Linked DNA regions of Homo sapiens: region 2 is linked to region 1. Evidence: fine-mapped expression QTL. A gene starts in region 1. The other region holds a variant in brackets. All regions are shown on one strand. Distances are between the middles of the regions. Region 1 holds the start of FCSK (fucose kinase). Region 2 overlaps FCSK (fucose kinase).

What was found.
Region 2: its variant is fine-mapped to the expression of FCSK in lung (TOPMed, PIP 0.91).

The regions. Positions count from the first base shown.
Region 1 is chr16:70,452,237-70,457,603 of GRCh38, forward strand. It overlaps FCSK (fucose kinase), which reads left to right and starts at 2,359. Exons shown (of 24, transcript NM_145059.3): 1 at 2,359-2,394. LOC124903708 (a long non-coding RNA gene) reads right to left here and starts at 2,300. Exons shown (of 2, transcript XR_007065104.1): 1 at 2,082-2,300; 2 at 801-1,231.
Region 2 is chr16:70,479,818-70,485,136 of GRCh38, forward strand. FCSK (fucose kinase) reads left to right here. Exons shown (of 24, transcript NM_145059.3): 24 at 1-457. COG4 (component of oligomeric golgi complex 4) reads right to left here. Exons shown (of 19, transcript NM_015386.3): 14 at 4,036-4,152; 15 at 2,912-3,004; 16 at 2,275-2,358; 17 at 1,947-2,048; 18 at 1,542-1,670; 19 at 754-1,327. The coding sequence ends at 1,193. Among named protein-coding and RNA genes, the nearest start is that of FCSK, 28 kb to the left of the region's middle. The variant T/C (reference allele first, on the strand shown) is at 2,758.

The DNA.
Region 1 (5,367 bases):
AGTTGGAGACCAGCCTGAACATGGTGAAACCCCGTCTCTACTAAAAATACAAAAATTAGCTGGGCGTGGTGGCACATGCTTGTAATCCCAGCTACTCAGGAGGCTGAGGCAAGAGAATCACTTGAACCTGGGAGGCGGAGGTTGCAGTGAGCCGAGATCACACCACTGTACTCCAGCCTGGGCAACAGAGTGAGACTCTGTCTCACAACAACAATAACAAAAAAATTGGCCAGGCTCATCTTGAATTCCTGACCCCGAGTTTTCTGCCTGCCTTGGCCTCCCAGAGTGCTGGGATTACAGGCATGAGCCACTTCGTCCGGCCCTAATTTATATATATTTTAGAGACGGGGTCTTGCTATGTTGCCCAGGCTGGTCTCAAACTCCCAAGCTCAAGCCATCCTCCCACCTTGGCCTCCCAAAGTGTTGGGATTACAGGCGTGAGCACCTGTGCCCAGCTTTAGGCTCCTTATTAACAACAGATTTGGAAAGTACATTCTTGTAAGAAAAATTCAAACAATACAGATAAAGCTCAAGTTCTCCCCGCTTGTCCCCATGCTTAGCAGTCTCTCCCTAGCATGCGTTCGCTTCCAGCCCTGTTCCTGTGTATCCACACACTATCTGTCCATAAACATTATTTTTTATTTGAGGGGCTTCCCATACATATTGCTCTACAACTTGCTGCTTTTCCCTTAACATGATGTCCTGAACATCACTCCCTACTGAACATATAGAGCATCTGTCTTGCATGGATGTGCCTAGTTTAGTTTTCCAGTTGTAAACCAAAAAGCACCAGATACTGGTCTCAATCAATTTACAAGTTTATTTTGCCAAAGTTAAGAATGTGTGCACCTGGGAGACAGGTCTGTACCTTTCTCCAAAGATGATTTTGAGGGCTTCAATATTTAAAGGGGAAAGGTCAGATATTGGGGAAAGAGGAATTTTTTTTTTTTTTTTAGACAGGGCCTCACTGTGTTGCCCAGGCTGGAGTGCAGTGGTGCAATCTCAGCTCACTGCAACCTCTGCCTCCCGGGTTCAAGCGATTCTCCTTCCTCAGCCTCCCAAGCTGCTGGGACTACAGGTGCGCGCCACCACGCTCAGCTAATTTTTGTATTTTTAGTAGACGGGGTTTCACCATATTGGCCAGGCTGGTCTTCAACTCCCGACCTCATGATCCACCCGCCTCGGCCTCACCAAAGGGCTGGGACTACAGGTGCGAGCCACCGTGCCTGGCCTGAAAGAGGAAATTTTTAAAAGGCATGGGTAGGTAAGAGGCAAATGGCTGCATTCTTCTGAGTCTTTGATAAGCCTTTCACATGTTAGAGGGGGATAGAGGACTAGTCACTTATGCATTCATCTAGCTCAGTGAATATGCATTTTTACATAAGAAAAAATAAACATAGGGCAGAGGAAGCAATGAGATATGCATTTGTCTCAGGTGAGCTGAGAGATGACTTTCAGTGCTGTCAAAGCCCAGCACCTGTGAAGATAAGCTATAAATTTACATTGTCACTGAAATTCCACACAACTGTTTTAGGGTACAGATTTGGGGGCACACAAGGAATTTCCTAGTGGGCAAGTTGTGAGGGCCAGGCCATATCTAGCTTTTTTATCTTTGTAGTTATCTTGTTTAAGAATAAAATGGGAGGTAGGTTTCCCTGATGCAGTTCTCAGCTTGACTTTTCCCTTTGACTTAGTGACTTTGGGGTCCTGAGATTTATTTTCCTTTCACATAGTAACCTAGAGAGAGACACTCAGAGTATTTCCAATTGTCATCTATGACAATCAATGCTGCCATTCACAACTTTCCCAAAAGGTCCGCAGATCCCCTCCCCATTACGGAGTTGGAAAGTTTCTTCCCAAAGGATCCACGTGATGAAACCAGCGCAAACCTTTCCAACTGCAAATCGAATGGCAGCTGCTTCCGCTTGGGCAAAGCGTGATTTTTTTTTTTCCTCCATCAGTGGATTTTTCTCCAGAGGAAAGCGGAAGCTCCTGGTGCCGTCCAGAAGGTGTTAAAAAAAAAAAAAAAAAAAAACCCAAACGAGAAAACAAACAAAAAAGCTACACATTAACCTATTAACCTGGATCCCGGAGTCCCAGAAAACGGGCCTCTGTCTTTAAGGCGCTTCGGTCCTCTGGGAGTTGTAGTTTCGTGGGTCCTGGAGCGGCCCCCTTCCCATCTCCCTTCTGGATTGCAGCCCCGCTGCCCTTCAGGAAAGCGCTGCCCCGGCCACCCACGCTGGCCTATGCGGTGGCTCCGACCGTGTTTTTTGCCGGACGGGGGCTCGGCCTTGGGGGGGCGCGGAGGTGAAACTACACTTCCCGGAGTGCACCGCGAGGGTCGCGCAGCCTCGCGTTAAAGAGCCCGCTCCGCCGAGCGCCGGGCGACGGCAGGTACGTCAGTCCGCGAGGGTCGCCGCAGCGCCCCTTGCGCCCCTTGCGCCCCTTGCGCCCCCTCAGCTTTCCGGTGCACCCTCCCTGACTGGGAGCACCGAGTCGACCCGCGGGCCGCCCGGGTCCTGACAGGGAAGAGTCCCCGGGAGCTCTGCGGTGCCCCGGGAGCCCACAGGTGTTTCTACGCTCCCGCGTCCATTTGGCCTGGGTCTTCCAAGGGGAGCCCCGCGACCCGGCTGGTGCGGCCGGACCTGCTGGCAGCTGGGACCGGGAGGGATGCGGGCCTCAGAGGATCCTCACCCTGAGGCAGGTGGGGCCCTGGATGCCGGCGCTGCTCTGATTTTACTTTGAGGCCGCTTCTCCTCTCTCAGTTTACCCGGCCAGGGCTCAGTATTATGCACAAATCTCAATGATGTGCTCTTGGGTAATTTACAAAACGATTTTACTCCCAAGTAACTTCTTTCGGTCTGTTATTTAGAAGGCAGCAAGTCAGAGTCCTCCGTGAGCCTTTTTTTCCTCTTTAAAGTTCTAAAATGTGCAGTCCCTGACCCACCTGTCTTCAAAAGGTTCATATGAAGAGTTCTTAGTACTTTATTCTATCTCTGGCTCCCCAACCCTATCCCAGTCTTGGACAGCGTGGGGCTGAGGACACTAAAAAATATTTCAACTTGATCTCAGCAGATGAGGCTGTATTGAAAGTGGGTAGAGGCTGGGCGCCAAGGCTCATGCCTGTAATCCCAGCTACTTGGGAGGCTGAGGCGAGGGAATCGCTTGAACTCAGGAGATGGAGGTTGCAGTGAGCCAAGATCACGCCACTGCACTCCACCCTGGGCGACAGAGCGAGACTACGTCTCAAAAACAAAACAAAACAAACCAACAACAACAACAACAAAAGAACCTTAGGGCCTTAGGGCACACTTTCTCAGGACCTCTTGAGATTGTGTAACTCCAGCAAACTATTAATTAAAAAAAAAAAAAAGGCCGGGCGAGGTGGCTCACGCCTGTAATCCCAGCACTGTGGGAGGCGGAAGCAGGTAGATCACCTATGGTCAGGAGTTTGAGACCAGCGTGGCCAACATGGCAAAACCCCCTCTCTACTAATAATACAAAAATTAGCTGGGCGTGGTGGTGCACGTCTGTAATCCCAGCTACTTGGGAGGCTGAGGCAGGAGAATCACTTTAACCTGGGAGGCGGAGATTGCAGTGAGCCGAGATCGCGCCATTGCACTCCAGCCTGACGACAGAGGGAGACTGTCTCAAAAAAAAAAAAAGCCAGGCATGGTGGCTTACACCTGTAATCCCAACACTTAGGAAGGCCAAGGCGGGAGGATTACTTGAGTCCGGGAGTTGTAGGTCAGCCTGGGCAACAAAGGGAGGCCCCATCTCAACAAAAAATAAAAAACTAGCAGGACTCATGCATAGTCCCAGCTACTTGGGAGGCTGGGATGGGAGGATCGCTGGAGCCCGGGAGTTTGAGGCTGCAGTGAGCTGTGATCACATCACTGCGTTCCGCCCTCTGGTGACAGAGCCGGACCCTGTTTCTCAAAAACAAAACAAAACAAAACAAAAGCCTAGCCTGCCTGTGCTATTAAAGCAATGGCAAAAGCCAAAATTACTTTTGCACCAACCTAATAGCTATGTTTCTGCTTTTTAAACTACAGTTTTCTTGTCTAGAGCTTCAGTGAGATAAGAACCAATTCTTAGGACTGTTGGGTGGGTCATATGAAGTGACACTGATGTGCCTTTGCCATAGTGCCTGAAAAAGCACTCCATATGTATTAGCTACTTGTATCATTTTACCTTTTTTGTTAATCTCTCAGGGGATGTCCCTCAGCCTTGCTTGATTCCCGAGGCCTTCCCTGATTTTTTTCTTCTTCAGGACAGTCTTTAACTCAGAGAATGTTTGAGAGCTTCCAGTCCTTCCTCCTTCAGGGACAGGTTAAACTCTCCTGCTTCCTTGCCTGGCTGGAAGGATTATCATTCATTGAGCCACTGGTGTGTGCCACATACTTTACATTGTATTTCATGCTGAAAACAGTCCTGGGAGGTTGATGTCTTTGGCCTTAAATTTCAGATTAGGAAACTGAGGCTTAGAGAGGTTAAGTAACTGCTGGGCATGGTGGCTCACGCCTGTAATCCCAGCACTTTGGGAGGCCGAGGCAGGCGGATCCCAAGGTCAGGAGTTTGAGACCAGCCTGGCCAGCATGGTGAAACCCCGTCTCTACTAAAAATACAAAAAATTATCCAGGCATGGTGGTGCGCGCCTGTAGTCCCAGTTACTCGGGAGGCTGAGGCAGGAGAATGGCTTGAACCTGGGAGGCGGAGGTTGCAGTGAGCCAAGATTGCGCCACTGCACTCCAGCCTGGGTGACAGAGCGAGACTCCATCTTAAAAAAAAAAATAGATTAAGTAACTTGCTCAGGATCCTACAGGAAGCAGGAAGAGGTAGAGATGGGGACAGAGCCTTTTGGGACTGATACGCAACCCAGGACTGTTCCTCTGCCCCTGTCATTAGTAAGGGATACTCTCCCCACTCTGGCCATGACCTGTCACCTGCCCATGTCTCTCTATCACTATGCTGAGATGAAGACTGGGCTCAGAACTTCTGGGCCATTGGACTCTCTGGGGCATTTCTTTTTTTTCTTGAGACAGAGTCGCTCTGTTGCCCAGGCTAGAGTGCAGTGGCGTGATCTTGGCTCACTGCAGCCTCCGTCTCCTGGGTTCAAGTGATTCTCCTGCCTCAGCCTCCTGAGTAGCTGGGACTACAAGCGCGCATCACTACACCCGGCTAATTTTTGTACTTTTAAAAGAGATGGGGTTTTGGCATGTTGGCCAGGCTGGCCTTGAACTCCTGAACTCAAGTGATCTGCCCACTTTGGCCTCCCGAAGTGCTGGGATTCCGGATGTGAGCTACCACATCTGGCCATTTCAAGGGTTTCTTTCTTTCTTTCTTTCTTTCTTTTTTCCTCAGACA
Region 2 (5,319 bases), 28 kb after region 1:
TCTGGGCAAGCAGAGAGTGCCTGGGACAGGACTGTGACCTGGTGGACAGGGGCCTAGATGTAGCCTCTGTTCCTCCTGGACATAGGAAGGTCCCAAGCTTAGTATCCCACGTGGCCTTTACAAATCCTATGGCTGGCCTTCTCATTCCACAAGGGCCCTGGAAAGGGTTGACAGCCAGCCTTGGCATATGGCTGGGAGTCCCTTAGCAAGGCCAACCCTGAAGAGGCCCTTTGAGGCATTCCCTATGGCTTAGAGTTGTAGACTTACACTCAACCCTCATGTGAGCGTGGGAGTGAGGGTGGCGGTCCCTTGCCAAGTTGGTAGCAGTGACCCAGTGATTCACTGCCATCCCAGGCCTTAACTAGCAAAACTACGGAGCGTGCCAAGTGACCTGGTGCCTGTGGGAAGTGGGTTCTCAGGACTGGCATTCTTGGAATAAATTCACTCTGTCCTTGCAGGTGGTCCTCGTAAAGTCACTTTTGCTCCTGCTGGGAGCAGTTCCCACTTCTCTACACCATGGGGAACTGGCCCTGGGGTGATCCAGCTTGTGGTGCTGGGGGCCCAAGAGGGGCACGAGGGTCTGGGACTGGATGGGGGCTCCTGCCATCATGTGGGCCCCGGACACAGCTGTGTGCTGCACTGTGTGTGGGAGCAGGCTGAGGTCTTGGGTTTTACCTTCCTATTTCAGTGCAACTGATAGACCTGCCCTGCCCCATAGCATCTGGCCCTCCCTGGTAACAGCACACTGGCATCTCTCCAAGGAGTAGCTTTATTCAGGGATCATAAACATCACAGCCTCTCCTCAAAGTCAAGCCTAACTGCTAGGTCCCCAGATGTACCCAAGTTGTCTAGGACTGGCAGGGGTAGCTTGTTTGCTGTAGTGTTTGAGGGCAAGAGACTGACCATCCATGCAGAAAGCTGGCCTGGGCTGCTCGCTGCCTGCCGTGGCTTTCCCACCTCATTAGGAGCCCGCTTCTCTCGGTGGGGAGATGCTGCCCCCAGAGCATCACCTGGCCAGGTCTGAGGGCAGAGCATGGAGTGGGTCCAGACTTTGTTTCTCTGCTGCCAGCCGTAGAAAGGTCTGGGCTGTCAGATCTCCCCCAAGCCAGACAGCCTCGCTCAGCTCCTTGGCTGGGGCCCCTTAGGGAACAGGCCTGCAAGTGTGATGAGCCAGGTGTGCTCATCCAGGCAGCTACAGGCGCAGCCTCTTGATATCTTCACTGCGGAAGTCTATCCGCAGGGCCAGCACCTGGCGCACTTCAGCAGGGGTGAGGCGCCACGTCAATGGGCCGGAATTGGGTCCCCAGTAATCGAGGATCTCGGTCACCTGTGGGGAAGGACATAGAGACCAGTCAGCAAGGTGGGGTTATTCTGAAAGAGGGCTCTGGCCTCTACCAGGGGCAGAGCAGGGGCACCCGGGAAGGGGAAGGTGTCCTATAGAGCTGGCTGCTGGCAGACATGGTTTAGAGGGAAGTGGCGGGGATCCATCTTTGCCTCTTTCAGTCACCCCTCCCTGGCTGGGCCAAGGGTGCCCCACCTACCCGCTCCAGATTGAGGATGGTGGCCATCTGGGAGAGCCGGGCAAACTTGTCTCGGATGGTCCAGGTGGTCACCGTGGTAAGGTAGGCAATGAGCGACCTCAGCTCCTTGTCAAACTGCAGACCACCCAGCTGCAGGAGAACCCAAGCCCAGTCACTACTTAGGCCTGGCCAAGCAGAACTGGCCTCCAGTTGCCCCCAGAGCTGGGTGGCAAGGCCCGCCAGGCCTCAGGTGGTGCCCTGTGGTTTGTTTGCTCTACGGCTTCAGAAGCCAGAGCAGGACTGGACCCAGACATGCAGGGCCTGTGGGCAGCAGACAGAGGGGATGCAAGTCCTGGGGGTGGTGGCATGACATGTCTTCCTCAGAGGAGAAACGAGAGCCGCAGACCCATGACCCCTTTACCTTACCCGGTTAAAGGTGGATTTCAGCACCACTTTCTCCAACTCGACGGCAACAAGGCTAGTCATGAGGCCGGTTAGGCTGTCGTAGATGACCGGGGACAGGCTGGCCTGCACACAGAGGGTTGACATCAGCCGAGCCCCACCTAACTCCTCTGCCTCTATGCTGGAGTCTTAGGTGGTGAGGATAGTAGCGTGAGGCCACGGGGGAGTTTCTACAGGTGAGGGTTGGAAGGGCTTTCAGGGTCCCCAGAAGGAATGTGATGAGACCCTGCAGGCTGCTGGTTTGGGCTGACGTGGGTAATTCCCTAAGTGGATCCCTAGGGCCCCTGCTCACCTTGAACTCTGCCATTTGCTGCTCCAGGTTAAGGATGAACTGTTGTACCCAAGGGTCGTTGGCCTCATAGTCATTGAATTCTTCCTGTTGTCAGGAAGCAGGGCTGGTCACCATGGGCCTCATAAGAAGTACCATTCATTGCCACCCACCTCTATCCCTCTAAGAAAATAATGTAAAACATTCTTCCTTCCCTGTGCCTTCTGACTCATCTAGTTTAAAACCAGCTCAGACACCCAGGCTGGCAGAAACTGACCAGCAAACAGCCCAGGGCTGTAGCAGTGGCCCACATAACATGGTAAAGTTCCTGGCATTTTATTCCTTCTTGGATCTCTTGTTCTACAGGAATGAAATCACTACGCCAGGAGGAAAAAAACGCTTCTAAGTCTATCATAGGCGGGGCAAAAAGAGCTCCAATAAGGGAATAAGTTAGGTCAAGGCAAACTCCATGTCTTTCTGAGCCCTTCTGACTAGGGACAAACTGTT[T/C]CCTGGGAGGAACCTAGTCTTCATGGGTCAGGGTGGGGGAAGTGGGCCTGGGAAGCATGGAAGGTCTAGTCTGTTCAGATGGCTCTGCTCCCTCTAGCTGGGGCTAGGGATGAGGGGTCATCGGGGCTTGATGGCTGCCTGTGGCCAGGCTAACCTCCTCGATGTTGTGGGAGACGGAGAAAAAGCTGTTGATCCAAGGCTGCACCTGTGGCTTGATGGCTGTGCTGTTGAGCTCCGTCAGCCCTTCCTGCACAAGGACAAGGTGGAGACATGTGACACAGAAGGCACGACTCATCCCTTCCCTCTCTCTTCTCCCCATCCCTTCCCTCTATCCTCTCCCCATCCCTTTCCTCTCCTCTCCCCATCCCTTCCTTCTCTCCTCTCCCCATTTCTTCCTTCTCTCCTCTCCCCACCCCTTCCCTCTCCTCTCCCTACCCCTTCCCTCTCCTCTCCCCACCCCTTCCCTCTCCTCTCCCCACTCCTTCCCTCTCTTCTCCCCACCCCATCCCTCTTTTCTCCCTACCCCATCCCTCTCTCCTCTCCCCACCACATCCCTCTCTCGTCTCCCCACCCCTTCCCTCTCTCCTCTCCCCACCCCTTCCCTCTCTCCTCTCCCCACCCCATCCCTCTCATCTCCCCACCCCTTCCCTCTCTCCTCTCCCCACCGCATCCCCTTCTCCTCTCCCCATCCCTTCCTTCTCTCCTCTCCCCACCCCATCCTCCTCTCCTCTCCCCATCCCTTCCCTCTCTCCTCTCCCCATCCCTTGACTGCAGGGCGTTCTTCCAGCCCTGAGGCTTTCTGCAGGCCCTGTTGGAGGTTATAACAGAGCTAGTGCTAATGAAAGGAGGAGCCAGGAACATGCCCCTTTCCAGATCTCAGCTGATTCAGGTCCAGGGTAACGATGAGGCCTTGAGACTGTTCTGATAAACTCTCACAAGAGATTTCAGAATGCTCAATGTTAGGCAGCACCTGCGGCTAGGTCAGAACAACCATGTGGCTCCACTTCCTCTGAGCATCTTCTGAGAGCTCTTGTCATTGTGGGGCCAAGTGCAAAGTCTAGAGCACCAGATGTTGGCTTGTCAGTGTGACAACTTCACTGCTGAGAAACCAACAGGGCCTTTAGTCTCAAGGGACCTGCACAACTCCAGGCTCCAGGGCTTGCGTGCTGCTCCCTCACCCGTCCTCCTGGCTTCCTTGCACACGATGAGCCAGCTAACAATCTTCTCAGAGCAACACACAGGCACAGGATTCAGTCAGCAGTTGAACCTGGGGCTTACCTGCAAGAGGTCTCGGAATTTGTTGGACACGGCGGCCAAGTCAGAAAGGCAGCTGTCAAACTTGGCCTGGGCCTGCTCCCCTCCAATGCCCTGGCTGAAGAGCTTGGTGCAGTCACTCTAGGGGAGAACACTGCTGTAAGACCACCGAGCACGCGTGGGCCATGGGAGTGTGAGGAGCCACCAGCCAGTTCTACTCCTCCAGCCAGCTATGGCCTGTCAAGAGCCCGGATGGGTTTCAGAAAACCTGGATTCTATCCTGGTGGTTATCCACTTGGCTCCCACTTCCCCCTCTGTAATATGGGGGTACCAATGTCGGGGAAGTGAGTAAGAAACAGAAATACCAGAAAGTTTTTCCTGTCTTTAGAGTCAGACATTCCTAGGTTCAAGTCCTGGCTCAGTCATGTATTAGTTGAGTGACCTTGGGCAAATGATTTAAAGTTTCTGAGCTTCAATTTTCCTGTCTATAAAATGGGAACACCAATTCCTGCTCCTCATGTATGAGATGAAGCACAACGTGCCTAGCTCAATGCCTGGCACAGGAGACACTAGCTATTATTGCTATAGTTCCTCCTTTCCCCCCCTTTTATATTTATTTACTTCTTCTTAAATTTTATTTAAATTTACCAAAAAACCACAAAAGTCAGTTTCTGCTTCTTAAATATTTTGGTATGGCTACCAAAGGGGATGGTCAAGATCATAGCTAAGGTTTAAGGGCGTACTGTATACCTGGCTTTGTTCTAAGCATTTCACTTTTATTAAAGTACCAGGCTGGGCGAGGTGGCTCATGCGGGTAATTCTAGCACTTTGGGAGGCCAAGGTGCAAGGACCACTTGCGGCCAGAGTTTAAGAACAGCAGGGAAACATAGTGAGAAGCCGTCTCCACAGAAAATTAAAGAATTAGCTGGATGTAGTGGTGCGCCCCTGCATCCCTAGCTACTCAGGAGGCTGAGGCGAGAGGATCCCTTGAGCCCAAGGGTTCAAGGTTGCAGAGAGCTATGACTGCCACTGCACTCCAGCCCGGGCAGCAGAGTGAGAACAAAGTACCTATTCTACTTAAAAACAAAACAAAATGAAAACCAAAAAACCCCCACAACTATTGTAAGTTACTTTGACCTTCATAAAAAAAAGTATCTCCTTTATGAAATAGGTAAAATTATTATCCCCATTGTACAGATGAGAAAACTGAGGCACAGAAGTTAATAATTTATTCAAAGCCATGGCAATAAGTCAGGAAAGGCTGAGCATGGTGGCTCACTATTGTAATCCTAGGACTTTGTGAGGCCA